Linked DNA regions of Homo sapiens: regions 2, 3 and 4 are each reported to be linked to region 1. The links are microRNA targets in miRTarBase. Many come from high-throughput screens and were not tested one by one. Region 1 holds a microRNA gene; each other region holds the end of a gene's coding sequence. Distances are from middle to middle.
Evidence for each region. The annotated mature microRNA hsa-miR-4279 reads CUCUCCUCCCGGCUUC and lies in region 1 at 3,398-3,413, opposite strand. An mRNA with a match to its seed (bases 2 to 7 or 8) in the 3' UTR can be bound and repressed. Matches are read on the target gene's strand: a 7mer-m8 pairs with bases 2 to 8, a 7mer-A1 pairs with bases 2 to 7 and ends in A, and an 8mer does both.

Region 2: miRTarBase lists LEAP2 as a target of hsa-miR-4279. Seed matches in the 3' UTR shown: 7mer-A1 at 5,995-6,001.
Region 3: miRTarBase lists PIAS2 as a target of hsa-miR-4279. Seed matches in the 3' UTR shown: 7mer-A1 at 6,584-6,590.
Region 4: miRTarBase lists LACTB as a target of hsa-miR-4279. The part of its 3' UTR that is shown has no 7-base or 8-base seed match.

Annotation. Positions count from the first base shown.
Region 1 is chr5:31,932,715-31,940,906 of GRCh38, forward strand. It overlaps MIR4279 (microRNA 4279), which reads right to left and starts at 3,445; the gene lies at 3,388-3,445. The region is part of intron 2 of PDZD2 (PDZ domain containing 2); the gene reads left to right.
Region 2 is chr5:132,873,938-132,880,937 of GRCh38, reverse strand. It overlaps LEAP2 (liver enriched antimicrobial peptide 2), which reads right to left. Exons shown (of 3, transcript NM_052971.3): 2 at 6,849-6,988; 3 at 5,892-6,528. The coding sequence ends at 6,492. AFF4 (ALF transcription elongation factor 4) reads left to right here. Exons shown (of 21, transcript NM_014423.4): 21 at 1-5,543. Among named protein-coding and RNA genes, the nearest start is that of LEAP2, 3.8 kb to the right of the region's middle.
Region 3 is chr18:46,805,895-46,814,086 of GRCh38, reverse strand. It overlaps PIAS2 (protein inhibitor of activated STAT 2), which reads left to right. Exons shown (of 14, transcript NM_004671.5): 14 at 1,475-8,192. The coding sequence ends at 1,654. Among named protein-coding and RNA genes, the nearest start is that of ST8SIA5-DT, 53 kb to the right of the region's middle.
Region 4 is chr15:63,139,865-63,148,056 of GRCh38, forward strand. LACTB (lactamase beta) reads left to right here. Exons shown (of 6, transcript NM_032857.5): 6 at 1,416-2,197. The coding sequence ends at 1,941. Among named protein-coding and RNA genes, the nearest start is that of RPS27L, 14 kb to the right of the region's middle.

The sequences.
Region 1 (8,192 bases):
TTTTCCTCTTGCAAAACTGAAACTCTGGATCCATTAAGCAGTAACTTCCCATTCCTCCTCTCCCCAGCCCCTGGCAACCACCATTCTACTTTCTGTCTCTGTGAATTTTACTATTCTGAGTGCCTCATACGATTAAAATCATATAGGGTTTGTCCTTTTATAACTGGCTTATTTCACTTAGCATAGTGTCCTTTTTTTTTTTTTCTTGTTTTTAAGACAGAGTTTCGCTCTTGTTGCCCAGGCTGGAGTGCTATGGTGCAATCTCGGCTCACTGCAACCTCTGCCTCCAGGGTTCAAGTGATTCTCATGCCTCATCCTCCCGAGTAGCTGGGATTACAGATGTGTGCCACCACGCCTGGCCAATTTTTGTATTTTTAGTAGAGACGGGGTTTCACCATGTTGGCCAGGCTGGTCTCGAACTCCTGACCTCAAGTGATCCACCCACCTCGGTCTCCCAAAGTGCTAGGATTACAGGCCATGAGCCACTGCGCCCGGCCAGCATAGTTTCTTTTCAAAACTCATCCAAGTAGTAGCATGTGTCAGAATTTCCTTCCTTTTTACGGCTGAATAGTATTCCATTGTACATATGTATCACATTTTCTGTATCCATTCATCCATCAGTGGATGCTTAGATGGCTTCCACCTTTTGGTTATTGAGTGGACAGTGCTGCTACAAATATCGAGGGTGTGAATATCCATTCGTGTGTCTGCTTTCGGTTCTTGGGTTTATACCTGGGGTGTCCCTTGGCTTTTGCTGTATGATCGACTCCTGCTGGGGATTTCTGGGATTGCCCTCTTTGTTACCTTTCTGTTTTAGCTTCTGGGAGAATCTTAGGTGTGTCCCTAGGCTGGGCTTTGTGACCCGCTGGACAGCCATTACTGAGCCCCTGCCTACAAAGATCCACACCTTGTCCCCTTGGCACCATCTTAGAGTTTGAATCAGGAAGATTTACGTTGTAACCTCAGTACTTCCACTAATGTGCCCTGTGATGTTGGAAAGCTTCCTCATGTTCCTGTGGGCCTCTGTTTCCACACGAACGCAATGAGAAAGTAGAACTCAGTGATCTTCAGGGTCCCTCCCGGGTGATGGACAGTGAGTGCACAGTGGTCTCCTAAGCCCAGTGACCAAGGAACCAAGGTGGACACGAAGAAGGCAGAGCCCCAGATGCCTGTCATGGATAATGCAATTCAGAAACTTGGGTCGGTTAGGTGGCTTGTGTACTTGCTGAATTCTGGTGTATGCTACGTGGCTCGTTTTGTGAGTAAATGTAGCAGTAATTCCCCTTAAAGCAAAACTATATGTTATATATTATCCACCCTTCGTTGAGAGAATGGGACAAAGAGAGGCAGGATAACTGGTTTTACCATAGATTTTTGGCAGATGTCACCAACTAATACTGTCAGGAATATTTTATAGGCAAATTTTACCTCTTGTTAGGACTGCAGTTTGGTCACAGGCCAAGGCAATTTTAATCTTTTTCCCTCACTTCTTTTAAAAGAAAAAAAAGCTAAAGAGCAGACTTCCTTCTCCTTAGCTTGAACTGTGAGCAGGAGTCCACGCTTTCCTGAACTAGGAAGGTGAGTTCCAGGAAGTTACCCACACGATCAACTTTCAGGCCTCTTGAATGCACACAAAAAATGTGGACTTGCCTGGGGCTCCCTGCTGGTGTTTGGAGACTAGGAACTAATCCTCCCATTAGTTCTTTCTCTGCCGCACCAGGGAAACATCATATATACTAGTGACTTTCTGTCTTCTTTATCTCATCAGTAAAAGGCGGATCCTGTTTTTGTTTTCAAGAATGTGTTAGGGTATTGGGATGGCTAGAATCCATTTGGAGCACATGAGAAAATGTATAGCATTTTCTGTTTAGGAGACATTTGAACCATCTAATTAAAAAAAAAAAAAAAAAAAGACTTAAGTCCGGATACTAGACCACCAGTTTTTTAATACATGGAAAATTTAGAAGCAATTTCAAAAATGTCTCACTGTGACTGGAACTAGGTTATGTCAATACAAGGCTCCTAGGGGAAAAATTTATACTGGATAAAACTCTAAAATAAATGAATATACTAAAAAACACCAAAAATCTGGCCAGCAGTGGTGGCTCACACCTGTAATCCCAGAACTTTGGGAGGCCGAGATGGGCAGATCACTTGAGACCAGGAGTTTGAGACCAGCTTGACCAACATGGTGAAACCCCATCTCTACTAAAAATACAAAAAATATCTGGGCATGGTGGCGGGCGCCTGTAATCCCAGCTACTCCAGGAGGTTGAGGCAGGAGAATCTCTTGAACCCGGAAGATGGAGGTTGCAGTGGGCCGAGATTACTCCACTGCACTCCCACCTGGGCAACAGAGCCAGACCCTGTCTCAAAAAAAAAAAAAGAAAGAAAATAGAATGGCTGCAAGAAGTAAACAGAGGATGTTTGCTCCTATTTTGTTCCTTACAAGTATAGCTAACAAAGGACCTTGTGAGTATTGGAATAATAAAATGTCATTCCCATTTAAGTTGCACATGTACATTTTTATACCTGCACCAAAGGTTTTTGGAATCTTTGTCTCTGGCTGTTGGATCATGAAAGACCCCTTTGGCTTCAGCTGTAAAACAAGGCAAATTTTACCCATAATAGAAACTACTATATATGTGTGTTGGTTTAGGGAAGCCTATTTTTTAACATTCTATTTCCTGATAAAACCTTAGAAAAATCATATTGTGTTTAAAAGTTGAGGATTTTTTCAGCAACTCAAGGGCTGACTGATAATTTCTGGTTTTGCTAGTACTTGTCTACAATGGAAGTTGGAAGCTTAGTCGGAGTAGAAAAGTTGTAAATTTGGTGTCATCAAGACAAATGGCTTTTATTTCCCAACAGACTTCTTTATAAAATAATTTAACCCCTTGATTTTTGTTTGCATTTGGATGCAATTTAAAAAAAAATCTGGCCCTTTAATAAGTGCAAGACAGATTAAATGTATTGTGAAATATCAGGTCACTGAGTGGAAAGTTTCTTCACTGATCATCCTAGCTTCACATTTTTAGTTATGTGAAGTACACATTTTGATAGTATTTTGGTTTTCTCCTGCCTGAAATCTTCAGTCCTCCTCCCTGGCAGTCTGTAGAATGAAGCAGCTGTGGTCCGTGGCCAAGTGTGCGTCCTTTGGTGATGGAAGAGCTGATCTGCAGATACCTGCAGGAGGAAGCCATGCATGATGTCTGCTGGGATATGATTTCCCCCCATACTCCTGGAAAATTAGAACCGTTTATAGCAGCCTGGTTCCAATACACTGGCAGGGCAAGGATTGGCTCCTTCTCTTACAAACACAGCGTGGCTGGATGCATTCATAAATGAAAAATGATCTGAGTGCTGTGGGTGGGTGGGGCTCTGGAGCTCAGGAGGTGAAGCCGGGAGGAGAGAGAGAGAATCTGCTCCTCAGCTCCACAGAGCATGGGGAGCTGGCAGGAAGTTGGAGCACGCATGGCGCAGCTTGTATTTTTGTTGATAGTTAATAACCCAGGACTTTAAAGACCTGAATGGAGAAGGGAAGTGAAGCACAACCAACTTTGGAGTCTGTCCCATTCCAGAGGCTGCTGAAGCACAGCAGAGCACGCTCACCTGACCAGCTCATAAAGCAGGTAGGACGGGAGACCTGAGTGGTGAAGAGAATCACATTTTCTCTCTGAACACAACTTACAGGTCTTCCAAGGGTTTATTATTTTTTAATTATATGAGAGATGAGCAGGTAATAATAACATAAAAGACTCAGCTTGAATTGTGCTGATATCTGCCCAAGCAAGAGTTCTCTCAGTTACTAGTGTGATGACCAAATGACAGTTTTATTCTGAGAGTTGCTTTAAAAAAAAAAAAAGAAAAAAAGCATGCAGCATTGAAGCTTTTTTAATTTAAACTCATTTAAAAATTGGCAGATGATAAATGAACTGCAGACACTGTGTTTTAGAACAAATACTTTGAAGGGAGTCAACCAGAAACCGATTTTCAGGCTTGACTGTGGCTCCATTTTCATATTTCAGAGCCAACGAGGTGCTCACTAATTTTTGCTGGCTTTTGTAAGAAAGGAGGTGGATGTATAACAGCTGTGAAATATCCAGAAATTGACTGGGATCCAGAGTGAAGCCCGAATGCACTAATGTTTTCTCCATTAAGGCAGGCTGCCTCTGCTCGGCTTCTAAGTCAAGGGATTGGAAAGCAGTGTGAAAGTGAAGTGTGAATCCTGAATATTTGTCATGGAGTGGGGGGAGTGCAGAGGGTTGGAAACTGTCACAGTGACGTTTCACACTCAGAAGTAGAAAATAAATGGGGAGGACCATGGGTGGCAGCCACATGCAAGGATAATTTTAAAACTGATTTTTGATTCCCATGATTGTAGCCGAGTCTCAGGGTGTTCCTTCCGTTGTCAAGGTTTGGGGCTTGTGATAAGAGAAGTAGAACAGAATAAAGATCATCTCCAGCCCCAGGTTCTGAATCATTTCTAGGCCTTGCTTCTCCTGGGCACTGGGATGATCTGACATGTTTTCCCTCACTAATGAAGTGGCCAGGGTGTTGGGGGATTGGGCTAACATGGAGGAGGTTGGATAGAAATGGTGCGTGTGGTCAGCCTGAGAAGAACGTCAGAGGTAGGTGGAGAATTTTGTTTCGGTAGAATAGCCCAGCCTGAATCCTGGAACTGTTTGCGTTGAGGTTTGGAGAATGCCCCGTAGCCACAGGGGTGTGTCTGAAAAGGCAAAATTGGGAGCTGCTTGGGTTACTGCTTACTGCCTGGCTGGCATCCTCATGCTGTGGTCATCCTCATGCCGTGGTGGCCACGTTTTGTGGCTTTGCATTTTAGTCCTGGAGGGCTGGGGGATGGCTGTGTTTAGTCAAGCAAGCCCACACATCATTGCTAGTCTCTCTTTCCGTGTGATTTCTCAGCATTACACAGCTAGCCTTCTATGGGAGGAGGAACGGCACCTCCTGTGGTCTTTTAGAAAACTTTTTCACCCCATGTTCCTACCGTCGCCACCCCAACTCTTGTCCTTTCTTGCCTACTGTTCACCTGTTGTGTGTGTCCCCTTTGTCTCCCATCCTTCAGACTGATCTGTCCCAGGTGCTATCTGCAGTGACTTAGAAGCTGTGTTGGGGACAGGTTCCTTCCCAGGGTTCCTGCTGGAAGCGGTGTTCAGCAAGCTATGGCCCTTAGGCAAATCCAGACTGCCCTAGCCTGTTTTTGTATGGCCTGGGAGCTAAGAATGTGTTTTATGTTTTGAAGAGTTGAAGAAACAAAGAAGAATATAGGACAGAGATAGTGACCCACAAAGCCTATCCGATCTTTAGAAAAAAACATTTGCTGGTTTGCTGGTTGGTCTGTTGATTTCCGCCCCCATTTAGAGACAGAGTTTCACTCTGTTGGCCAGATTGGTGTCAAACTTTTGACCTCAAGTGATCTGCCCACCTCGGCCTCCCAAAGTGCTAGGATTACAGGTGTGAGCCACTGCTCCCAGCACTCCACCTTGACCTGTTGATTTTTTAATATCATTGGTGAATAATGTGATCAGTGGGTTGATGCAGCAAGTTAAGCCCTCAGCAATTTGAATGGGCTCTTGTTTGGGAAACTGATTTTAGTTTCTTAGTCTGTATTGGTGCCATCGCCTCCAAATGGGTAGATTCAGGAGTTAGGAAGTTGAAGCTTTTCTGCAGGGTCCCAACAATAGTAAAGAAATATTAGATGAACTATGTGCCTGTGGTTGGATTTTCACCCTCTTTCCTGGTTTATGAACCTGCTGGAAAAGACACCTATGAGTCCAGCCATGTATTGACTGTGTGCCCTACTGGAAGAACCCATTGGGGACCAAAACTCTGGTAATTCACACAAGTCATTCACTTCTTTCTCTTTTGCATACTGAATGCTGGCTAGACTTCCACAATCTGAGAGCATTTGGTGTTGCCACTTTGGAAAAAAAAAAGATGTTTTTTGCAATTATAAAAAAAAGACAGCTGAATACCATGTTTTCTCATATTTAGAACAATGTTTCTTTATTGCCCTCTAAGAAAGCTTACTGTAGGCCCTCCAACCTTACCTCTGAACATGCAGTGCTCCTCTACCCAGCACAGTATTTCATTGTTATGTCATTTCTAATAAAGGAAGAGGAAAATCTGGTGACCTTGTTCATGTTTAACTTGTGTCGAAACTTCAGGCCTCGGTATGGAGCCATCTTGTGTAAGTAGCTTTTTGTCCATTGCAGAAACACAGGAAAGCATCTCACAGGAGATTGTTGTTTACTACCGGGACATTTCAACCATCTTTCCTCCTATATTTGGAAATTGGATGTTGTCAGTAGAGAAGAATGGGGGTGGGGCCCAGTTTGACAAAACAAGTGAGGAAGGATGAAAATATGAAAAGTATGGCGCCCCACCAGAGGTAGGGCCTGGAAAACAAGATGGCGCCTGTACGCTTGATGAGCCAGGTTGTCAGAGCTGGGAGGGGTGGGTCCTTTAATCTACCATGGGAGCTGGGCAGCACTTTCGTATTTAGAAAAGGGGTTGGCTCTGAATTTAGAGATTAAGCAACCTGCTGTTCCTGTATGCACTGGAATTTCAGACACAGTCAGAAACCTGATTTGCGTAACTGCTGAAACTCAACTGGAAACCAACCAGACTGAGGTCTGGACTCCCCAGGCCAAGGGGCAGTTAGGAATCAGCACGTGAGAAAATGTATTAGGCTTGCCCAAGAGGGAGTGGTGCTGTGTGGCCAGATGCAGTGAGGCGGGCTGTGGGGTGAAGGGTTGGCTTTGGGTTCCCAGAAGGCTCAGGCTGGAGGGTGAGTAACCTCTTCCTCTGCATGGGTAGGCAGTGTGTGTCAGAATTCTAAAACTACCTGGTACCACATGGTAGCACGTGGGACCTTTTTGCTTCTGAGCCATGCAACCAAGCTGGCTCCTAAAGAGACAGAAACCACCAAAGTCTAGTCACTTTGGCGTGCAAGCCATGAGCAGCCCTTAACAAGCCAACTCATCTATACAATGTTGTGAGGGCTGAGTGTCCAGCCCAAAGCTGAAGCATCTGTCATCTCCCTTTGGCTATGGAAACAAGGCTGGAATCAGACATCTATTTATCATTTTTTTCCTTATGGTGAATAGAATCAAAGACCAAGCCAGACGTCTGCATATATGCACAAAGTGTATAAACCTAGAGGAGAGGAACAGCCAGACAAAATAAAAGTTATGATTCTGAATTCAAGAAAACTTGTGACCATGTCTATAAAAGGGAATCAATAATTTCGTGGCTCAGTGGCCAGCAGAGGATTCCTTTCTGTGGCTTTGTGTTTACATACAAGCTGTGCCCCTCTTAAGAGCTTTTGTAGGTGATATAGTCTCTCACTTCCAAACATGAGTTCTTCACATTACCTACGGTGGCACTGGGGGTGGAGCACAAGGTCCCTCATGCCATGGAGATCCCGACTGGAGCCCTGCCTTTCCTTGGTGACGGGGGAACAAGATAGCAACATTCTCCCTCCATGGACATGGCAACTGTTCCTTGCAGCAGGGCATACCCCTTTGTGACTTCTTCTGTTGTCTTTGCTGTCCCTTGTAGGCCCATCTGCCCAGATTGCCTTCGTTAAGCACATGGGTGCCTCACTGGATAGCCACACTGTGACTCCACAGATGGCCTCAGCAGGGCACATTGTCAGCCCTGCACCATGAGGTCCCTGTACCACGAGTCAGGCCATGACAGCTGTTGACTTGGGACTCTAGATCTGCCTTCCCTTTCTTTCAGGATCTCTTCCTGTAGAATCAACCCAACTATATTTTACATGCAGCAGAGGAACTTGGTCCTTAAAGAGACCAAAAGTGACTCATTGGTAGAAGAGAAGGATCACCCTATAGTCTGTATTTTTGGTAATTTTGAGGTTTGGGGGTTGTCAGGTAGCCTAAAGCCACATACACCCAGACCATCTCTTTGCCTTTCTCATTTCAACACTTCCCAAATTAGAAGATGGAAACCAAGTTGGAAATTGGCAGAGGAAGGTGAATCTGAGGAAGGCACGAAGTGGCCCTTGAGAATCCGTTTGGTAAAAAGTCTCTATTTCAGTGAGACACCTGAGACCGCAGGGGCAGAACATCAGTGCAGATGACTCCCAGTGAAGGGCAGATAAATGTTCTTGTGTTTATGTATTGTGTTTTTCCAAGGCTTGCCCTTTT
Region 2 (7,000 bases), 100 Mb from region 1:
GTTCATGTGTTGTTGTTTTTGATAATCCAAAGCGATCATGTCAGTTGGCCCTTTAATATTTCCAATGTGAAAGATTATTTAAATGCTTTTAAATCTGCAGCACATTGATAAGATGGTTTCCGTGAGCTATGATAAGATTGAAATTCCAGTTGCAATTCATAACTAATGAATTGAAATTTTATTTATTTTAATTTTTTTAAGTTCCCAGATTGGGGCTAGTTTAAGACTTAGTTATTTCTGCCTATAAATTTACTCTGTTGAATATTTAGCATAAATTTAATGTAGACATTTTTATTTATATACCTTGGGAGCTTTATTACCTAATATCTTTTTGTGGTAGCTGTTCTAAGAGTAAGAATTGGTTCGTCTAAAATAAGGACATATTCTTTCTACACCTGCTACCTGACCTGATATTTGAAATCTTAACTCCAATTTTATTATTGTGGAATTTACAGTTAGTATTAAGGATATTCTTCTACACATGAAAAAATCACTTAAATATGAGAAAATGGCATTCTACATGTATGTACTATGAAATGTGTCTGATTTGGTATGCATTATTTCAAAAACTGTGAATGTGTGTTAATAACACTACAGCAATCACACAGTGACTATAGCTTGCATTTAATGCATTACAAAAGAGGGAGGACAAACTTTCTAGAAGAAGCATTTCATGTTGAAGGGTTTCATAAAAGGACAATCCTGAACGTTACGGATTTTATTAAAACCATATGTTATTTTTTGTTGCTAATCATTTGACACTTAATCGAAACAGAATAAGTTACTGTGGAAAAAAGGATGATCCAACTCCTGAGGATTGCCGCCTGTGTGTCTTTAATTGATTATCTTTGATAGTTAGAGTTATTTTTCAGATTTTTCCCCCTCATACTGGATTGTGATGCTCTGATATGAGCATGCAATGACTGATACAGAAATAGGCTGGAGCTTCGGTGTGTGCTTTTGCTATACAGCTTACAGTTCTAATGCCTGATGTAGAGATGATGAATTTCTCCTTTTTAAACCTATCTTCTGTTTACTCCTTTTGCATTATGAAGGCCCTCTTCAATGATGTATGTTTCTGATGGAATCAGAAAATTTCACACTAGAAAAGTGTACCTAACTTGATTCAGTGTGAGCTCTTGGGACAGGGAGTGGAGCCAGGGGTAGAGCTTAAAGAAGCTGGCTCTGTAAGAGTTGTATATCAAAGTACCTTTTGCTACAAGGTGCATATAGAAGTCTAAGATAAGAAATGTACCCTCTATACTTTATTTTTCATGCCCCTATCATGTTTGGTGTGCCTTAAATCTTACCTTTAAATGAAGACTCTATGGATTGTTTACAAATGAAGTTTTACACTAGGACCAGATCGTCCATACATGATTGGTCTTCTACAATAATAATGTTCAATTCTTTCATTTTAAATCTTTCTTTAGGGTCATATAAAGATTAGTTCTTTCAGAAAAGCTATTGCTTTGGTACATGACTTAGTCTAACCAGTTGGGTAATGCTGCTTTGAAAAATAGTTTGTCCCTCTCCCCATTCCAAAAATGAATCCATTCAGTCAGAAAAAAAGATTATCCTACTATTTGTAGATGATTGCTAAGGCTTGAAATAGGAAAGGGGAAAGAAGGGATAGAAAAGTTTCAAGTCCAGTAGTGCAGTGAATCCTTTGTGTTTGAGACTTTTTTACACTTATTTCTGAAGTTAGTGAACTTTCATTGTCCCTGTGGCCTCATATTTATAGAGCTTCTTAACTGTTTTGTACCTCAGATTGTTTTTAGATGTCATTGAAGATTGAGATGTACAAATTATGTTGAATTTAACCTGTTTCTCTTGGAGAAATTGCCTCTGATATCTTTCTAACTTAATCTTAGTGTGTTCTAGGAACAGTTTTCCATAAGAGGACAACTTCTCAATGATCATGATAGTTATTTAGTAAGAAATAATGGTTGTTAATCAAATACATGTTATGTCTTGTCCTTCTCTGATTTTTCTGACTTGGATTCCTTAATTTGCAGTGATGTCTTAGAAATGGAAAAAGTATCCTCTGGGCTTTCAGACTTTCAGCAACAACAGCCAGTGGGATACCTCTGAGTTCTTGTGTTCTAGTCTCTTGTATGTCCTGAAAGGCAGCAGGAGCATTTTTGGGGTCACACTGATATTTTGTTAAAGCAGAGTTTCCTGCATGGTTTATGGTGCTGCTCTAATATTTTCTCTTTAAAACTGTGTCAATTTTTGGAGAATGAATTTTTCAACCTTTTCATTGTGGAGGATTTTTCCCACAAGGTAGTAATGGGCAATGGATCAAAATCCTATCATAAATGATTGAATTTTCAATGTCATAGTGTGTGGAAATACTACTCCCTTTCCTCCATGTCTATCTTCTTAGATGTTCTGTCTTTGTCATCATCTGCTCCAGCACATACTTTGGACTCCTTTACAGGTGACCTTCCCCCCTCCCTCCTCAATAGGTGTCCTCAGTGTTTTCTAAGCATTTAAAACTGAATTTGACAAGTGGCTAAAAACTTAGTCTGAGACTTGTACTTAGTATATGGTTAATTATAGAAACAACAACTATTTTAAACAGTTACTCTGTTGACTGCTCTTTATGACTACACTTGTATGCCAGGAGGCAGCAGCCTATACACCATTAGACTCTTTACAAGCAACCAACGAACCAATTGCAGTGGTTGCAGTTGTCACAGTAGTCTTGCCTGGGCCAGACTGGGCTGGGCTGTGGGAAGCATTCCCCTTCAGGGGAGTTTCCACAGCTCAGCCCAGGCTCCAGTCTGGCTAGAGAGCATCCAGCCCATTCCTTGCCTCAGTGCCACCTTTTTCTGGGCAAGTAGCCAAGAAGTGACTTTATATGCAGTGAGTACTTCAGATAAACTTACAGCTACAGCTGCCGAAGAGTGGAGAAGGTTGACCACCATTTATTTAATTCTCTAGTGTAAAAACAATTGAGAGCAGTGTGCGTGAGCCCACAGACACCTGTGTTTCTGGGAGCTCTGGCAGTGGCGGATTCATAGGCACTTGGGCTGCACTTTGAATGACACACTTGGCTTTATTAGATTCACTAGTTTTTAAAAAATTGTTGTTCGTTTCTTTTCATTAAAGGTTTAATCAGACAGATCAGACAGCATAATTTTGTATTTAATGACAGAAACGTTGGTACATTTCTTCATGAATGAGCTTGCATTCTGAAGCAAGAGCCTACAAAAGGCACTTGTTATAAATGAAAGTTCTGGCTCTAGAGGCCAGTACTCTGGAGTTTCAGAGCAGCCAGTGATTGTTCCAGTCAGTGATGCCTAGTTATATAGAGGAGGAGTACACTGTGCACTCTTCTAGGTGTAAGGGTATGCAACTTTGGATCTTAAAATTCTGTACACATACACACTTTATATATATGTATGTATGTATGAAAACATGAAATTAGTTTGTCAAATATGTGTGTGTTTAGTATTTTAGCTTAGTGCAACTATTTCCACATTATTTATTAAATTGATCTAAGACACTTTCTTGTTGACACCTTGAATATTAATGTTCAAGGGTGCAATGTGTATTCCTTTAGATTGTTAAAGCTTAATTACTATGATTTGTAGTAAATTAACTTTTAAAATGTATTTGAGCCCTTCTGTAGTGTCGTAGGGCTCTTACAGGGTGGGAAAGATTTTAATTTTCCAGTTGCTAATTGAACAGTATGGCCTCATTATATATTTTGATTTATAGGAGTTTGTGTCTGGGTCCCAGGAACATCTACTGGGGATGACTGTTAGGCAGCTTGTGATGATGTTTTTTAAAAAACCTAAGTAACTTGGGGAGACAGAGCATTTCAAACCCATATAGACACCTATCATACCTGTATATCCCCTAATACATGGAACATAAATTTCATTTCAGCTTTATGCATTAATGTATTGAAGAGGCAGGCTTTTTTTCCAGTAATAATACTGTACATCTAAGGTTGCTATTCAGTAAAACTAATAGAAGAGATAATTATTGAATACCTTGGAATATGTAGTGAGAAGAGGCCAAATTTTTCATGTTTGTGAGCATGTCTTTCAGATACTCGCTAATGGAGAAATTCACTTTAGACCTCTAGACCCCAAAACCAAGTTAGCAAGTGACAAAAAGTAAATTATTAATAGTCTGTAAAGTGGATGCTGGTCTTACAAAGCTCCTATTCACATGAACCCTATGGTTAATTAGAAAGAACTTGCTGTCTCCAGAAAAGGGAATGGAAATAATAACTATGTATCTTCTTTTCATGTAATTTGGTCACAGAATAAGGTATTCAAGTTAAGTCTAATCCAAGTCTTAGAGATCTTTAAGTATCCTAAAATAGCAGCCTAAGTAGTCATCATGTAAAGAAGTTGACTTTCAGGAATGTCAGCATTGACCTCTCCTTGCCACTGTTACTCAGCTAAACATAACTTGCCATTCTTAAAAATAAAAAAGCTCCCACCCAGAAACTCTAGTGATACTCAGTTTTGACCTCTTACTGCTTCCATGTGGGACTTCTTTTCAGCTTTTAACCATTGGAATTTTCTACCTGCTATGTTCCTCTCTGGAAAATATCAATTTGGAAATGCTGCCTTTCAAATCAATGCCATGATCATCCATATTGTTGAGTTTGTTGTTGGTGTTCCAGAAGTGTCCCCATTTTACAACTTTATGCACACACCTGGCAAATCATTAACATGAGCATTCAACAGTACTGGGATGGGTGGGGTGGGGGTAGGGGGCTCACCAACAGAACTGGCCAGTTGACATTGCCTGAAAAGGCACCACCTTTAAGGGCCAGTTGTGGGGTTGGTAAGCACAGTTATGAAAATTTCTATCTAGCCTCCGTTTTGAATGGTTTTAAGAAATTTTGTATATGGAGGATGGAAATGCTTATATATTTATTGAAAATCCTTTTATTTGAAATTAAAATTATTTGGTATATAATTGTTTGATATTTGGGGAGGGTTTTGGAGGGGAGATAATGTCACTGATAAATTAAAAGCCTGTTGATTTTGCAGAAAGGTACTGTTAGTGACTGATAAGGATGCCTTTGTTTTGTACATGAACCAAATCTTTGTTTTACATTTCTTTTATCCAAAATATTTAGGCATCTGACATTTTCAACCAGAATTTCAATTATATACTGTGATTTTTATTTGTTGCAATACATTACAATTTCAGAGGTACTTTGGGGCTCAAAAGCTAGGATTTCTAAGTCAGTATGTGCATTTCACACGATAAAGCTGTTAATGGTGAGCAAAGTATTATATACTAACTAGATTTTTCCACATCTGTATAGTATATTATATGTATTTTGTGGTATTGAGAGTATAGAAAGTTTAGAGTGTCAAACATGCGTTTAATGTGTATTTTTAAACAAATTTATGGCAATTAAAATATTTGGAGACAAGGGTATCACATTTCAATTTGTAAAGATCTTTTTAACTCTACTGTGTCATTAAGATGCTTTGTACAATGCCAAACCATAGTTGGAGAAACTAAGTTTAATAAATATCAAATAGATTTTCTGTATTAAAGTTACTGAACACTGTACTCTTTATATTTCTTCAACTCTGAGCCCTTTTCATGCAATTCCTGTTTTGTGTCTTAAGGTCCGTTACTACTCTTTAAAAGTCTGTTCCCACCAGCTGAGGTCTCATTTTCTGATTACAGAAATTCTGAACTTGCTGGCCATGGGTCCTTGTGCATATGTCAAAATTCACCTTGTCCCAACAGAAATCTTAAATCTCTTTTGGTGCTTTTGGTGGCTTGGGCTTTCATTGCTTTATTAAACTAGATTTTTCTCTCTGTTCTGCCTTATCTTCAGACAGCCATAGACAAACCTGGGTGCTTCATTAGATGGCAAGTGCTTGACCATCTTTTTTTTTTTTTTTTTTTTTTGAGACAGAGTCTCTCTATGTCACCCAGGCTGGGGTGCAGTGGCATGATCTTGGCTCACTGCAACCTCCACCTCCCAGGTTCAAGTGATTCTCCTGCCTCAGCCTCCCAAGCTTGACCACCTTTGACACCTCCCTGAAGAGTATGGAGTGAAGGGATCCAGGGCCACAGCTTAGGAACTTGCTGAAGTTGATTACGTAGCTATTGATTATGTAGCTCTCACTACACTTTCCAGATTGAGAAGTTAACACATTATTGGGCAATGCTGTTTTTTTCTTTAGTATACAAAATGAATCCTTCTTTCCCTCAAAAGCTTGAATTCCAGACTGCTAAAATTTCAATTTGAGACATTTAATAGTATCCATAGAAAAATAAACTCTAAATTGACAAGTTTAGTTATGCTTATCCATATATCAACATTCTAAGAAGAAATGGAGACCAATTTAAAGCGTACATCTGCCTTTAAATATTAAAAATACAAGATTGCTTCACTTGGGTGTCTCCAGCCAAAATGCAGTTAATCAATATTCCATAGAACGGAGCATTGTCGGAGGTGACTGCTGTCCTTTCTTTCCCTGGTATGTACATCATTCCTGGGCCACACTTAAGGAACAGCGTCTTTTTCTAGGGGAAAAGAAAGGGTAGTTTTTTAAGACTGGGTCTAGGAATGACCAGGGCCACCTATGCTGCATTTCCTTCCTCTTTGCTTGATCTGTCCAGTCTCAGGAAAGACTGAAGAATGGAAAGGCACCACTCTTTCATGGTACCCACATAGAGCTGTTCTTGGCTCCTAACTCCTAAGGGATTTTCCATGGAGCTCCCAGTCTCAGTCTAGAACTCCTCCATCCCAGCTTTATTCTTAGGTTCATGTGTCCCCTTGTCACTCCTCTGCCCAGCTTCCCAGGGCTCTCTGGCCCAACCCTGCTCCCAGGTTCAGGGAGTACCTGCATAGCCTTGTGATACACTCAGAATCATCCCGGCAGGAGGCTCCAATAGGCCTGAGGGAAACCCCTCTCCAAAATGGGGTCATTCTCCGTGGCCTTCTCTTTGCCGAACTCACTTCTGGTATTGGGGAGCCATCTATCTGTAAGGGCAA
Region 3 (8,192 bases), not on the chromosome of region 1:
CTGTAGCATCTAGCACAACTTTCATGAATGAGTATCTTTTTCCTATAAGGCAATCAAAAACTACCTGAGAGGCAGCAGGAATAAAATGTAAGTTTCTGGGCTTTGTTCTAGATTTACCCCCCAGTTTTAGTGGAAAGTTAGAAATTGATTTGATTTTAGAAAAGAGTTTTAATACTGGACAATTCAACCATCTTTAGAGCTCCTTGGAAGCTCTTTAAGAACTGTTCTCCCTGTAACTAATGTCCCTTGACTCTGTATGTGGCATTCATTTTATTGATGAACCAAAACAGTTATCTATCCAAAGCATTAAATAACTTGTTCTTTTGAAGAGCAGTCTGAATTTTACTTGTTGCTGTCCCTCTGGCTGGCAACTTAAACCTGGGACTGTTGTTCCTGTTTTATTCACCGGCCTTGGAAATCATGTAGTCTAAACAACTTGACTTAAATTCCTGTTCCATAATCCAGTGTCTCTAATGATAAGCTGCATAATCTTTAGAATGGGGAATATGAATCAGATATCCTTACTGATCTTTCATACAGTTGAACTAATGACAAACTTAAACCATCTCTTGCAGGATATCACTAGACCTCTTGTTTTACTAAAGTCAGTGCAGTCGTTTCTCACATAAAAATATTCTATACTGATATAATGCTTTTGGCTTGTCTCTCTTCACTCCTCTGTTAATATTAGAGTAGTACATTCAGGTTTGTACTTGTTTGGGATCAGTAATGGGATCAGTAACCAGGATTGTAAGGGGACTTGTGAAATATGAGCACTAGGAAAGGGGTGTTAAGCAGGCATCACGAGAAGATTAGGTTAGATCTTCTTTAACATTTATTGCAAAACTTGGTGATTACCTGAGATAATTTTCTGTCCTGAGGATCCTGTGATAGCTAGCTACCGTGTAGTCTGTGTTTTAGAATGAATGTTGTCATTCTGATGACACAAGTATTTTACGTTTATGTACAAAGGAGTCCAATGCCATCATTCAGCTGGTCAGCCTTAACATTCATAAAGGATCTGTTTGATACTCAATCCATACCGGGAAAGGCTAACAAATACTTTTAAAAATGTTATTAAGCAAAAATGCTGGTGTAAGATCAACAATTCTTTCAAAATTGACACCCAACTAAATACAGTTAGGGAGCAAATTCTTTTTGAGATTAGGGCCAATATTTAGTATTAAATGACTTCAGTTATTGTTGACATTGTACTTTTACCTTTGTATGTGGTCAGCAAACAAGTTCCACAAGTTTAGAGAGAATCAAGAATATATGCTGCATTCTCTAAATAATGTAAAATAGCTAAATTCATGCTATCTTCCACCCAAAGATGTGAAGTTTTGAGCAATTTTTAAATCCCACTGGGATTTAAATATGTGACTATTGCTTGTGCATATCTAATAATTTCTAGTCTCTTTATTTAAAATCAAGTAGCCTCTTCCTCATTGGCATCATTGTTTGTTTCAAGCAGTACTGTCCTCCTATGTTTTTGGATAGTCTCACCTCACCCTTAACAGCAAGCAGTACGTCTGTCACCACCACCAGCTCCCATGAAAGCAGTACTCATGTTAGTTCATCCAGCAGCAGGAGTGAGACAGGGGTCATAACCAGCAGTGGAAGTAACATTCCTGACATCATCTCATTGGACTAAAGGAGGACTCACTTGATTCTGGGAATCATTCATCAGAACTGCTTTTTCTTGGATCTCTAGTCTGTGGAAACGTTCTTTTTTTTTTTTTTTTAATAATTTGGTATTTATTGAAAGTCAGATGGATTCTTTTGCTTTCTGAGGGGTGAACACAGAAGACTGCAACAAGAACCAAATGACATGCAAGGATTTTTCTTAATTATGCTGTACTCTCAGCATCAGATACATTCAACCATAACTGTATCTTCCTGAGAGATGGATTTCACTTTCATACGTTAATGGATGGAGTCTACAAATCAGTGAAAAAAGTTTTTGTTAAAATAAAGAGCAATAAAATTATGTAAATATTCAAGTAACCTTTTTTCTAATTAAAAAAAAAATTGTAATCACTGATTCTAGAATGACAGCAACTTCTGTTTAACCTTACGTGAAGGAAAAAAAATATATGGAAAGAACTTAATGTTTGCTGAATGAGTCCTTTCCATGGAGATTTGCTCTGTTTCATTGAAGTAATGAAGTTTCAGTACGTGGCCAAAGCTTGGATTCCACTTTTCGTCCTGCATTTCCACTTTTCTTCGTGATTGCATCAAAGAAAAATGGCATTCGTGTTACTTGGTTTTTTTCCTGCTTATCATTTACACTTTGACGTTGTTTGCTAATGAGTGCTGTGTGAAGTTCTGGGATTTGGCTACTCTTCATTGGTGATTATGTTTAAAAGCACTATGCAGATTCTGCCCTGACATAAAGTGTGTTATTATGTTTTTAGTAATTGTACATTTTTCATTCTAGAGTTTTCTATAAATTTGAGGCTTGCCTTCTCAAAAAAGAAACTATGCAGCCATTGAATGAAATGTCTTTGGGGTACGGTGTGACTGGAATGTTTGTTAGAAATTTGTTCACACTATCAAATATTGATATCTTGGAGCCAGCAGAAGAGCAGATTTTGGGAGGTGGTAATAACAAAATTTAATTTCTTCCCAACAACTTAATTTTCTCATTTATTTTACAGAATAGTAGTGAAATATTTGATGAAACTTTGTATTTTGGTAGCACTACATAGAAAATGTGTTTTAGATTTATGATGATCATATTTCTCACCAATGTAATTTCAGTCTCAGCAGTGATTTTCAAACTTAGGGAAAGGGACAGCATTAGATTTTTTTTTTTTTTCATTTTTTTAAAATGATATCTTACCTGAAACTACAAACGACAAAAGAGAATTAGAAATGTTTGAATTAAAGTGAAGAAGGGTTGGGGGAGATGGGCCTGAACCCACTTCCTGTCTCAATCCATGCTACCCCAAACACTCCAGGGAACCTCTGAGGTTTTATTGGGTGCACTTTGAAAATTTCTCTTCTATAGTGTGTTTGTTTGATTTTAAATCACAGAGAAAACTGGGTTTTACTCTTAGAGAAACATTTTCATCCAGTTTTTTAGTTTGCTTCATTTGACTTCCTAAATCATTTTTGAGTTCACAAGGATTTGGTACTTTTCTGTTTAGCTTTCTCTCTCTAAGCTTTATCTACCTTAAAAACAAAGTCCTTTTTTTAATGGCCAGTCCAACCAATTGATTTCTCAAACTGAAGTGCCCAGGTGTGGACTCATCAATTTCCGTTAGAATAGGGACATCCTACTTAAGAGTTGGTGCAGCTCCAAGGAGCTGACTTGTCCTTGCTTGGGGTTTTTTTTTTTTTTCTTTCACCTTCTCAAGTTTCCATGGCCTTTGTGTGTTCTTTTTATGTTGATTTAAATTCATATGGTTTTCCACAAATCCCTTCTTTGGCTACATTGTCTCCTTATTCAATGGATTATCCCTTTGTGGGGGCTGCTTATTTTAAAGATGTTGGGGGGGAAACAAACCCAAATCTACGAGCAGTAGTTGCACATAGTTGCCAGTTTTACCTTCTTAGTCATTAGATTTCCAAACCATGTTGCAGTTTTTTGGTCCAGATATAGTATTTCTTTCTAATAAAGTTTTATGTTGCTGCTCTAAATACAGATGCAATATTTATTGACTCTGTAATCAGATAGAAAAAACTTAACTTGGTTTGTGTGGTATGACTTATAAAGAAATGATGTATATTTGTTATTTTGTTACCCTTTAGATTGTCAGAGACTCCCCCAATTTAATCAACAAAGTTTTATAAAGTAAATGAAAATATTAATAGAAATTAGTTTATTTACTTGGTTCTTATAACTGATATCTCTGTGCTTTTATAATTGTGATTTGTTTTTTTGTTTTTTTTTCTATTTTCTGTGAACAGTTTTAATGTTCGGTTTTGGTGTTTTACACTGAAATTACATATAAATTTTTAATTTATTTCATACAGGCAACTTGCATTTTAAAAAATACACTTTGAAGTTTATCATCTTGAAATTGGGGCTTACGTTGTTTATCTGTCTTGAGCATTAGTACTTTATGACTTTGGCCTTATGGCAACATCATGATTATTAATCCGTCAGCCTTTAATGTGGTCACTGTTTCTTATCCAGACCCTGACTTTCTAGTAGTTTATTTTGCTAGCCCAGATTTCTGCTTAACCAAATATAAGGGAGTTTCAGAGGGGTGATCTTAGCTGTCACCTAGATTCTGTCAGCCAACCAGTGATTGTCTGGAATATCTTAGGAAATGAACTGTAATTGTCAGCCTCCTAAAATCAATTTTTTTTTTTTTTTTTTTGAGGCTGAGTCTTGCTCTTGTTGCCCGGGATGGAGTGCAATGGTGCGATCTTGGCTCACCGCAACCTCCACCTACAGGGTTCAAGCGATTCTCCTGCCTCAGCCTCCCGAGTAGCTGGGATTACAGGCATGTATCACCACGCCCAGCTAATTTTGTATTTTTAGTAGATACGGGGTTTCTCCATTTTGGTCAGGCTGGTCTCGAACTCCCGACCTCAGGTGATCCGCCTGCCTTGGCCTCCCAAAGTGCTGGGATTTACAGGCGTGAGCCACCGCGCCTGGCCAAAATAAAATGTTTTTATCTTTCTTCACTTAGAACTATGAAGGCCTTTTCTTGTTCTGGTAACCCCCCACAGTGTAATTGGTGCTGAAAATAGTTTCGTGCCTGAGGTCTGTTGTCACTCACTCACTTTCTGACAATTAGGTGAGCCACTTGAGGATTTTCTGGCCTGAAGTTATAAAAACTTGGCATCTGTCCTAAGGTAATTGTAAAGGCAAAATGAAAGCATTGAGGTGAATTTAGGTTATATGGCATTTATCTGGTAATGTGTTTCAGAAAAGCTAGAATGAAAATGTGATGTAAGGGATAGCAAGTGTAGGTTGATTCATAATTCTTGGTATAAAACCAAGTTTTCCTTAGTCTTGAGGAATTTGAAGAAAGGTAAAATGTTGGATTTTAAGCAAAGTAGGATTGACCAGAGACTGTTCTGACTTTGACATTCAGACCTTTCAGATGTTCTTCCTTCAGACCAGTCCAAGACACTCAGCATTTCCAGCCAAGTTGTCTTTTTTTTCTGCCAATAAAGTATTCATTAGTTGACGTTTGTTTGTATTTTAAGTAAAGTCAATTTTTTTTAAAGCATTAATTTAATTCACGGGTATGCCTTTCATTTCTCTGGCCTTCAGTTGGTTTAAAAAAAAAAAAAAAAAAAAAAGCACTTAGCCGGACCATTCTTTCTTTAGTAAACATTTTTATTTTCTTAATTTTTCCTGAAAGATTTTCTTCATTTTCATGGAATGTCATAATGACACTACCATTATTTTCTAGCTCTTTGCATAATAGAAAAATGTAGAGCAGTGCACCATTTAAACACGTCTGACATTGGATTTAGTGGTCCTAGGTTCATGTGATTTGGGAGCCTTAAGTTGTTATTTAGATTGATTCAGCCTGATTCACCATCTTTTTTACTACAGTTCTACATGAATGTGGTGAAACAGGTAGAAGAAAATTAAGCATTTCTCTGCTTTTGGAGTCTAATGTTCCTGCCTAGTGACTGGTTTGTAACACCCCCCTCACCCCTACTTTGTTAGGAACCTGCAATTCCTAAAAGAAATAAATAAAGCTGTACCCAATGTCCATTCTTTAATGCTTGCCTGGTTGAATAATGTTTGTTTTTTCTGTTTATGTCAGTAGTACATGCTTATTGTGGAAAATTTAGACAATACAGAAAAGTATAACAATTAATTGCCTATGATTCTGTCACCAGAAAAAATCACTTGATATTTTTGCATCTTCCTTGCCATTGTCTTTGCTACTTCTGCATATTTTTACTTAGTTTCATCATTCTCAGTGTAATTTATATCTTGGGGTTTTTCCCCGCAACCTACAGGCATTATTCCATGTCATTAAAACTGTGTCAACTATTATTAATTTTATGGTACTCCATTGTTATGGATGTGCCATGTTTCATATAACCTTTACTTATTTTGAACAGTTTAGATTATATCTCATAATGCCACAATGAATGTCTTTGTGTATAAATTATTTTCTTAGGATAAAATACTGGAGGTGGAATTTCTAGTCAAGGGTATATGAACACTTTTGTAGTTCTTGATTCATACCACTTTTCCACATGGGTATGTTAATTTATACTGCAGCTAGATGGTATGGGAAGGGTGGTCTAGCCATATTTTCCAAGAACATGCAACGTTTTATCTTTATGCAGGCATCTGCACTAAGACCCTCTGCCTTTCTGACTCTATGGAACGGGGTTAACTGATATGGAGATCATTGGCAGAGATTTTCCCAAGCTTTCTTAGTTTTAAATATATCTGACATGGGCCGGGTATGGAGGCTCACGCCTGTAATCCCAGCACTTTGGGAGGCCAAGGCGGGCAGATAATCTGAAGTCAGGAGTTGGAGACCAGCCTGGCTAACATGGAACATGGTGAAACCCCATCTCTAGCAAAAACATAAATTAGGTGGGTGTGATGGCAGGCGCCTGTAGTCCCAGCTACTTGGGAGACCGAGGCAGGAGAATCGCTTGAACCCAGGAGGCGGAGGATTTGCAGTGATCCGAGATTGTGCCACTGCACTCCAGCCTGGGTAACAAAGCAAGACTCTCTAAAAAAAAAAAAAAAAAAAAAAAAAAATATATATATATATATATATATATATATAAAATCTGACATGTTTCAGAAACACCTACGTATGGCTATCCAAGCTTTTCCCATGATTTTACTGGCACTGTAAAGTTGCACAAATATTCTTTGTCAGACTACGTTTTCCATCTTTAGTTCAAAAGTTTTGTCACTTTTTAAAAAAAGCCTCTTGTACCTAAGGCCTGCCCTTAAGAGGTCAGCTCTCTTTTTCCTCTTCCTGTAGGCCCCATTATGGCCTTTCTGAGCTCCCCAAAGCCAGTAGAATCTACTGAGCCAAAGGCATTCCATCCCCAAACTGAAAAGTGGTAAGGCTAAAAGCTATAAAAACAGGCAAACATTGCCTGTTTTCACTTTATATTCCCTTATGTTTCCAATAAGGGTAGCTGCAGGGAAAGAAAAAAACAGATTGCTACCTTCAGATGTTTGAGGTACAACATTTTCTTGATTGGCGTAGCACAATCATTTCCCAAACTGCTTCCTATTTCTGAATGGCTTTTTTAAAAAGCTTTATTTTGTGTTCTCAAAGCTTAATTATTTTAAGTGACGAAGAGTGTTACCGTGTTGTAGAATAGCATATGCCTCTTATTTTGGCCTTCATCAAACTGTTTAATAAATGTTTAGAGTGTTTTGTAAGTACACGTGGAATAGAGTGTTACAGAAGTTTTGGTTCCAGACATCAGGCAGCTTATAATCAAGGTTCCAAAAATCAAGAATTCTTAAGCTGGGCATGGTGGCTCATGCCTGTAATCCCAGCACTTTGGGAAGCCAAGGCAGGCAAATCACTTGAGGCCAGGAGTTTGAGACCAGCCTGGCCAACTTGGTAAAACCCCATCTCTACTAAAAATACAAAAAATTAGGGCATGATGGCTCATGTCTGTAATCCCAGCTACTTGGGAGGCTGAGGGATGAGAATTGCTTGAACCTGAGAGGCGGAGGTTGCAGTGACTCAGGATCATGACCCTGTACTCCAGCCTGGGTGACAGAGTGAGACCAAAAAAAAAAAAAAAAAAAAAAAAAAAAAGTAACAGGCATTGTGCAAAGAATTTTCCAAGAATGTCTCATTCTTGCAATGGCTTCTCAGAGGAAAGTGGTGTTATTCCCCATTTTACAAATGAAACAGGTTTAGGTAAGTTTCCCAAGGTCACAGTGAATGAGTAGTGGACTTGGGAGTCTGACCTAGACTTACCCCAAAAGCTCTCTGCGTAAACTGAAGTGACGTTAATTAGCTGTGCTATCTAGGAGACTGATATGGGAATCTAGACTTAAAATTATGAGAACTGGTTTCAGATGATGGCCAGAGTAATAAGGAAGGAGTGGATGCTGAAGCCATTTCAAAGGAAGACTCAAGATTCAGTGACTGAATATAGGAGTAAGGGTTGAGTGCATTTTTCATCCATTTTTCAAGCCTGGGTAACTTGGATGTTAATGGCACTATCTACAGAGACAGGAGGCAGTTTAGAGTGAAGACGAATCATGTATG
Region 4 (8,192 bases), not on the chromosome of region 1:
AGGCGAGTGGATTGCTTGAGGCCAGGAGTTCGAGACCAGGCTGGACAACAGTGAGACCTTCATCTCTACCAAAAAAAAAAAAAAAAAAAAATCTTAGCCAGGTATGGTGGTACACACCTGTGGTCCCAGCTGCTCAAGAGGCTGAGGCAGGAAGATTGCTTGAGCCCTGGAGGTTGAGGCTACAGTTAGCCATGATTGTACCGCTGCAGTCCAGCCTAGGCAATAGTGCAAGACTCTGTCTCAAAAGAAAAGTAGAAATTTATTTCTCAATGAAAAAATGTGTTTCTATTATGTAACTTTTAGATTTAATTTTATTTGGTTGGCTGGAATTACAAATATAATCAGGAGTTGACACAAAGTAATGAGGGCCTAAAATTTGAGAGTTGTCATAGGAATAGAAGGAAGGGAGAAGGGTAAGACACAAAGCAGAGATTGAATAAATAGGATTTAGCATCTTACTGGATGTGAGAGTTTAGGGCAAGAAAGTCATTAAAAGTTGTATAATGAAGGTTTTAATGGAGAGAAACATGACAGACATGTTGATTTTGAGACAATGAGAAAACCACCTCTTTTTTAAAATCTTCAGACACATACCTGTGGCCACTCATTTCCTAACTGCCAACCCTACTTCACTCAATATTATGACTTGTACTTTTAGGGGACGTATAAGAATCTTGAAAAAAGAAGAAAGGATTCAAACTAGGGTTTGCTAACTCCAGCCTTTCCCACTGCACCAAGAAACTACCATGTCACATCATTATATATGATATGTATATGGTATTTTGTTTAGAATTTTTTTTTAGATAGGGTCTTGCTTTGCTGCCCAGGCTGGACTCAAACTCCTGGGCTCAAGTGATCCTCCTGCCTTAGCCTCCTGAGTTGCTGGGATTACAGGCACCAGCTGCTGCACCCAGCTTATATGGTATTTTTATCCAAGAAATCTAGTCATCTTACAAATAACCTTATTCCTAAACATCCCAAAGTGCTTTGGATGTTTACAGTTTTGGTTATAAAATTCATTTGTGGCACGATGCAACATTAACCCCAAGGACAAGGAATATCTACCAAATGATAACTTTCTCCATATGCACAGGGCAAATATGTCATGTGTAATATTAACCAATACATTTTTGCAGGTATTAAAGGTTTGATACACTCAGCATGGACAAGCCATACCAATAGAAAAAAACCACTTTCTATGCTTTAATTCAAAAGGTAATTAGACTATCTTACTTAGTTATCTGTGTGTCATTAGGACCTGAATCATACTGAAAATTAGTGGTTAGTTTATAGTTTCTGAGAATGTATGATCATTACATTGAAATACAATCTCTCTCATGTATACATTTTTCTATCATCATGTGTGAAGCCAGTGACTATGAAATTTTTCATGATCATTTCTTATTTCCTTTTAGATTTTATGTTTACAATAAAAAGAAACGTCTTGTCAACACACCTTACGTGGATAACTCCTATAAATGGGCTGGTGGTGGATTTCTGTCTACAGTGGGTGACCTTCTGAAATTTGGGAATGCAATGCTTTATGGTTACCAAGTTGGGCTGTTTAAGAACTCAAATGAAAATCTTTTACCTGGATACCTCAAACCAGAAACAATGGTTATGATGTGGACCCCAGTCCCTAACACAGAGATGTCTTGGGATAAAGAGGGTAAATATGCAATGGCGTGGGGTGTTGTGGAAAGGAAACAAACGTATGGTTCGTGTAGAAAGCAACGGCATTATGCTTCACATACTGGAGGGGCAGTGGGTGCCAGTAGTGTCCTGCTGGTCCTTCCTGAAGAACTGGATACAGAGACTATAAATAACAAGGTTCCCCCAAGAGGAATCATTGTTTCTATCATATGTAACATGCAATCTGTTGGCCTCAATAGCACCGCTTTGAAGATTGCCCTTGAATTTGATAAAGACAGATCAGACTGATAACCTTAACACCATAGGTGCAAAATGAGTTGTTCTGAGGTTTTTTTGAAACATTAAAGTTCCAAAACATGACATTTTTAAGAATAAATTTGAAATAGAGTATAACTGAATGCAGAGAATTATGTACCTCTAATTGCTTAATTTTGTAATGGTCTTTTATTGTAGAATTGGTTCTTTATACTCAGGGAAGTAATTATATTGTTTTTACTTTTTGAAAAAAGTGTTAACTCTTGAAATAAAATATTCTGATAAAATATGTACTTTCTGCATGTGTAATACAGAGAAAATCTCATTCAACAGGAGCCTCCAAATATCCGAGGTTTTTTTTCTTTTCTTTTTTTTTTTTTTTTTTTTTTGAAATGGACTCTTGCTGTGTTACCCAGCCTGGAGTGCAGTGGTGTGATCTTGGCTCACCACAACCTCTGCTTCCTGAGTTCAAGCGATTCTCCTGCCTCAGCCTCCCAAGTAGCTGGGATTACAGGCACCCACCACCATGCCCAGCCACTTTTTGAATTTTTAATAGAGACAGCATTTCGCCATGTTGGCCAGGCTGGTCTCGAACTCTTGATCTCAGGTGATCCATCCGCCTCAGCCTGCCAAAGTGCTGGGGATTACAGGCGTGAGACACTGTGCCCAGCCCAAATATCCTTTTAATATGAGAGCAGAAACAAAAGCATGAGAAATGGTATATTAGTTATCCACTACAGCTTAAAAGAAACGTTCAGAGAAGGAATCGGGAAATCAGGAGCAATATAGTCACGTGGGTCTGGCGCGGTCTCTAATGAGGTTGCAGACAAGGTGTTATGATCATCTGAAGAATTCTCCAGGGCTGGAGGAAATGCTTCCACATGGCTTACTTGCATGACTGCTGGCAAGAGTCAGTTCTCTGGCTGGTGGGTGGCAAGGGGACTCAGTTTGTCACCACATGGACCTCTCTGTAGGGCTGCTTGAGTATCTTATGGTAGTTGGCTTCCCGCAGAGTAAGTGATGAGACAGAGAGTGCCAGGCAGAAGTCACTCTTTTATAAACTAGCCTCAAGTCACATACCATCACATTTGCCAAATTCCATGGGTTACATGGGGCCTAATAAATGTTGAAGAGATTATATACATTGTGAATATTAGGAGGCAGGAATCACTGGGTGTCAACTTGGAAGTTGGGTACCACAGTCTGACCTCTGGTCCCCAATGATTTATGTCCTTCCCAATGCAAAATACTCTTACCTCCTTTCAAATCCTCCAGAAGTTTCACCTTAATATAGCATCAGCTCAAAGCCCAGTATCTTATCATCTAAATCAGGTCAGGTGCAAGTGTGAATGAGGGCTCCTTGGGATGAGTTCCTTAGGTACAGCAACTCAAGTAGTTTCTCTTAAGACCTGTGAACTGTAGTTATTTGCTCCCCATATGTGTAACATACCGTAGCACAGCAGATATAGGATAATTGCTAGATACCGTCCTCTTCAAAAAGTAGGGAAGTGGAAGACATACAGGAGACTGGCAATTCTGAAATTCAGTCAGACAGAGGTTGGCAACTCTGATTAGTATTCAAGGCTTCAGAATAATTCTTAGTTCTTGGCTATGTTCTCTGGGCTCTTAGTTCTACCTTACGAGTTATACTTTTTCTTTTTTTTAAGAGACAGCTGTTCACCATATTTCCCAGGCTGGTCTTCAACTACTGGGCTCAAGTGATCCACCCACCTCAGCCTCCCAAAGTGCTGGGATTATAGGCATGAGCCACCGCACCCAGCCCCTGAGTTATACTTTTTTTAATTGTTCTTTTTTACTTTTTTTTTTTTTTTTTTGAGACAGGGTTTCCCTCTGTCACCCAGGCTGGAGTACAGTGGCACAATCTCGGCTCACTGCAGCCTTAGCCTCCTGGGTTCAAGCAATTCTCCCACCTCAGCCTCTCGAGTAGCTGGGATTACAGGTGCGTGCCACCACTCCCGACTAATTTTTGTATTTTTAGTAGAGACAGCGTTTCACCATGTTGGCCAGGCTGGTCTCGAACTCCTGACCTCAGGTGATCCGCCCCCCTCGGCCTCCCAAAGTGCTGGGATTACAGGCGTGAGCCACTAAGCCTGGCCGCTTCCCCATACCTTTTTTTCATGAAAGGTAGCGTATCTTTCTAGCTGAGTGGTTTTCTCAGTGTGCTTTCCACTTGTAGAAGTTTGGAGACCCAAAGGCCTTTTTATACTCTCTTTCCTTTCCATCTAAGTTAACAGTGGTTCTGCCAATATAATATTTTATTTCTCTAATTTTTGAATTTTTTTTAGCAACCCTATTAACTGACAATATAATATTTTAAAATGTTAAGAGTATCCTGTGAATTTTATTGGGGTTTATGCCAGTAGACAAAAGCCACCCCAAAGTCCCTTCAGAATATCCCCTCTCTAACTTGGGGCTTGTCTCTGCCAAGATAATGGGAAGAACTAATTACGCTAATAATCTAATGAACTCTATTGTTTAAATAGTTCTCTGAAGCACCATGTTGATTCATTTTGAAGTCTTGAGAAAGGATTGTATAGTCATGCCCTCAATATCATCTTTAGACTATGTTTTCCTGGAAGTGCCCTCAATTATTATCTTTGCCTTGAAGCCATTTCTTAATTTTGGCATCATTTGCAATCTGAAGAGTCTGGGAATTTTTTAAACCATCAATTATTAATTCTTTACCAATAGTTCTTCCATTAGCTTATCTTTCTCTTGCATGTTAGTATAAGCAACAAGAATTAAGGAAGCACATTCAACACTGTGTATGGCTCTCTGCTCCTTCTCTTGCCCTGTGACATCCGGGCTCCCCCTTCTCTTTCCGCCATGGTTGTAAGCTTCCTGAGGCCCTCACCAGAAGCACATGCCAGCACCATGCTTCCTGTCCAGCCTGCAGAACCGTGAGCCAAATAAACCTCTTTTTATAAATTACCCAGCCTCAAAACAAAAAAACAAAAAACAACAACAAAAAAAAAAAAACACTGCATATGGAAATCCCATCAGCTAGTCACCCAATTCATTAGGCACATTTTCTGTTTTCTGAGTTACTCCTGGCGACAGTGTTGCTAAATTTTCTGTCAGTACTAAACAAGAATCCCTTCCTCTAATTGCCAATAAGATTTCTCTTACTTTCCTTAAGACTACACCTGCAGCCTCTTCAAAGGCCATACTTCTCAACAATTTCTTCAAGGCTCTTCAGGTTTTCATTAACACTTTCCTTAAAGTCCTTCCAACTTCCATCCGCTGCTCTGTTCCAAATACATACACACATACACACACACACGTAATTTAGATATAATTCACAGTCCATATGCCATAAAATTCTTTAACGTGTACAATTCAGTGGTTTTTAGTATAGTCACGAGATTATGTACCCATTACCACTATCCAATTCATTTTCACCCCAAGAAGAAACCTCATACCCATTAGCATTTGCTCCCCATTCCTCTGTCCTTCCAGCCCCTGGTAACCAGCAATCTACTTTCTATCTCTTTGGATTTGCCTGTTACGGATGTTTCATATAAATGGAATCACACCATATCTGGCCTTCTGTGTCTTGAGCTTTTTCCTGTAGTATAATGTGTATTAGTTATCTATTACTGCATAACAAATTACCCCAAAGCTTATTGTCTCACAGTTTGTGTTTCAGAAATTTGGGGGCAGCTTTGCTGGGTGTTTCTAGCTCAGGGTCTCATGAGTTTGTAGACAAGATGTCAGCAGGGGCTTCAGGCATCTGAGGGAAGGCTTGACTGGGGCTGGATAATCTGATTCCAAAATGATTCACCCACGTGGCCATGGGCAAGAGGTCTTTGTGGCTTGCTGGCTTTGGGCAAGAGTTTTCAGTTTCTCACCACATGGCCCTCTCCATAGGTCTGCTTGTCTGTGCTATGGCTTCCCTTTAGAGCAGGCGATTGAAGAAACAGGGAAACACCTCAATGTCTTTTATAAATCAGCCTTGGAAGCCATATGCCATCACTTATGCCAAATTCTGTTGGTTACAGAAACCAACCCTGATTTGGTGTGGGAGAGGACTGTAGAAAGGAGTGGATACCAGAAGGTTGGGATCATTGGGAGCCATTTTGGAGGCTGCAGTGTTAACGTATTGGGGAATTTTGTTCTAACAGCCACAGATCATGTGTACTAGAGATTACCAGTGTGCCACTGAACTCAGGAAAATTCAAAAAGAAATCAAAGTTTTTATACACCCTAATAAAGGAAGGGCTTTTCTATAATTCTGAGCCCTAAATCTGTTTCTTCCCTTAACACTTTATACAAGTAAATAGATGGATATCTCTGAGTTGGTTGAAGTAGAAAGAGAGCAGCTCTCTAAAACAGATCCATTTCATCTCCTTATTTCTTTCTGACTTCTGATCTCTAGGTCCTGTATTCATGTTTGTCAAGTTTTCAATCCGTGCCCTTAGATAAACATAAAAATGTCATGCCTTTCTTTAATGTTATTTTAACATTAAATGTTTAATGTTTCTTTAATGTTAGTGTTTTATGTTATTTGGAATTTATTTATTTTTTAGAAACAGAATCTTGCTCTGGCACCCAGGCTAGAGTGCAGTGACATGATCGTAACTCACTGTAACCTGGGCTCAAGTGATCCGCCCACCTTGGCCTTCCAAAGTGCTGGGATTACAGGCATGAACCACCATGCCTGGGCCCCCATTTGGAATTTTCTTTTATTTTTATTTATTTATTTATTTAGAGATAGGGTCTCACTCTGTCACCCAGGCTGGAATGCAGTGGTACAATCATGGTTCACTGCAGCCTTGACCTTCCAGCCTCAGGTGATCTTCCCACCTCAGCTTCCTGAGTAGCTAGAAATGCAGGTGCACTCCACTATGCCTGGATAATTTTTTGTAGAGTAGGGGTTTCACAATATTGTCCAGGCTGATCTTGAACTCCTGGACTCAAGCAATCCTCCTGCCTCAGCCTCTCAAAGTGCTGGGATTACAGGCATGAGCTACCGTGCCCGACCACCAATTCTTTGATGGCCACGATTTCCTCTCATTCCATTGTGCATGCAACTTTGCAATGTGATTTTGCTGCTTTTTCCATCCAAAGGTGGAGCTCTTTCTCCACTCTCTTGAATCTGGTCTTGCTTTATGATTTGCTTTTTGACCCACTGAATGTGGTGGAAATAATGTTGCACAAGTCCCACTGCATAGGCTTTAAGTGGCTTTCAAGCTTTTGTCTGCCACCTTCTAAGAACACTACCCCAAGATTGCCATGTAAAGAAGCCAGACTAGCTTACTGAAGGATGGGGGACCATGTGGAGGGGAACAGAGATGCCCCAGCTGACAGCTAGCACCAGCTGCCAGACCTATGATTTGAGCCTCCAGGTGAAGGTGGCTGTGTAAGTGAACCTAGATGAGACCAACAGAGTAAGCAGCCAACTCATATACTCATGAGAAATAGTAATAAGTCAACATTTTAAGCTATTAGATTTGGGGGTGACTTGTTTTGTAGCAAAAGTTAACATATCTATGCTCCAGTGTGGTGGTAAGGTGGGTAAATCACTTTAGGGAAAAAATGGAACATTAAAGTACTTGATGTTGAATAGACATGACTGCTTTCCACTTAAAAAAAAATACCACACAAACTATTTTTTTTTTTTTAAGACACAGTTTCGCTCTTGTTGCCCAAGCTGGAGTACAATGGCGCGTTCTCGGCTCACTGCAACCTCCACCTCCCAGGTTCAAGTGATTCTCCTGCTTCAGCCTCCTGAGTAGCTGGAACTACCGGCACATGCCACGCCCGGCTAATTTTCGTATTTTTAGTACAGACGGGGTTTCATCGTATTGGTCAGGCTGGTCTCAAACTCCTGACCTCAGTTGATCCACCCGCCTTGACCTCCCAAAATGCTGAGATTACAGACGTGAGCCATCGCGCCTGGCCCACACAAACTATTAACAGAGCACTTACTGTGGGGAAGGCATTTTGCTAAGCTCTTTGTATATGCTATCTCATTATACCTTCAACATAACTCTATTAAGTAGAAATATTATTATTTTTTCACAAGGTCACAAACCATTAACTAGCACTTGTTTCAAACCCACACATATCTGACTCTAAAGCCTGTTTTAACCATTATCGTGACTTCCCATAAAAAGCATCTCTAGGCCAACGCAGTAGCTCACACCTGTATTCCCAACGCTCTGGAAGGCTGAGATGGGCGGACCACTTGAGCCCAGAAGTTGAGACCAGCCTGGGCAACATGGTGAAACCCTGTCTCTACAAAAAATACAAAAATAAAC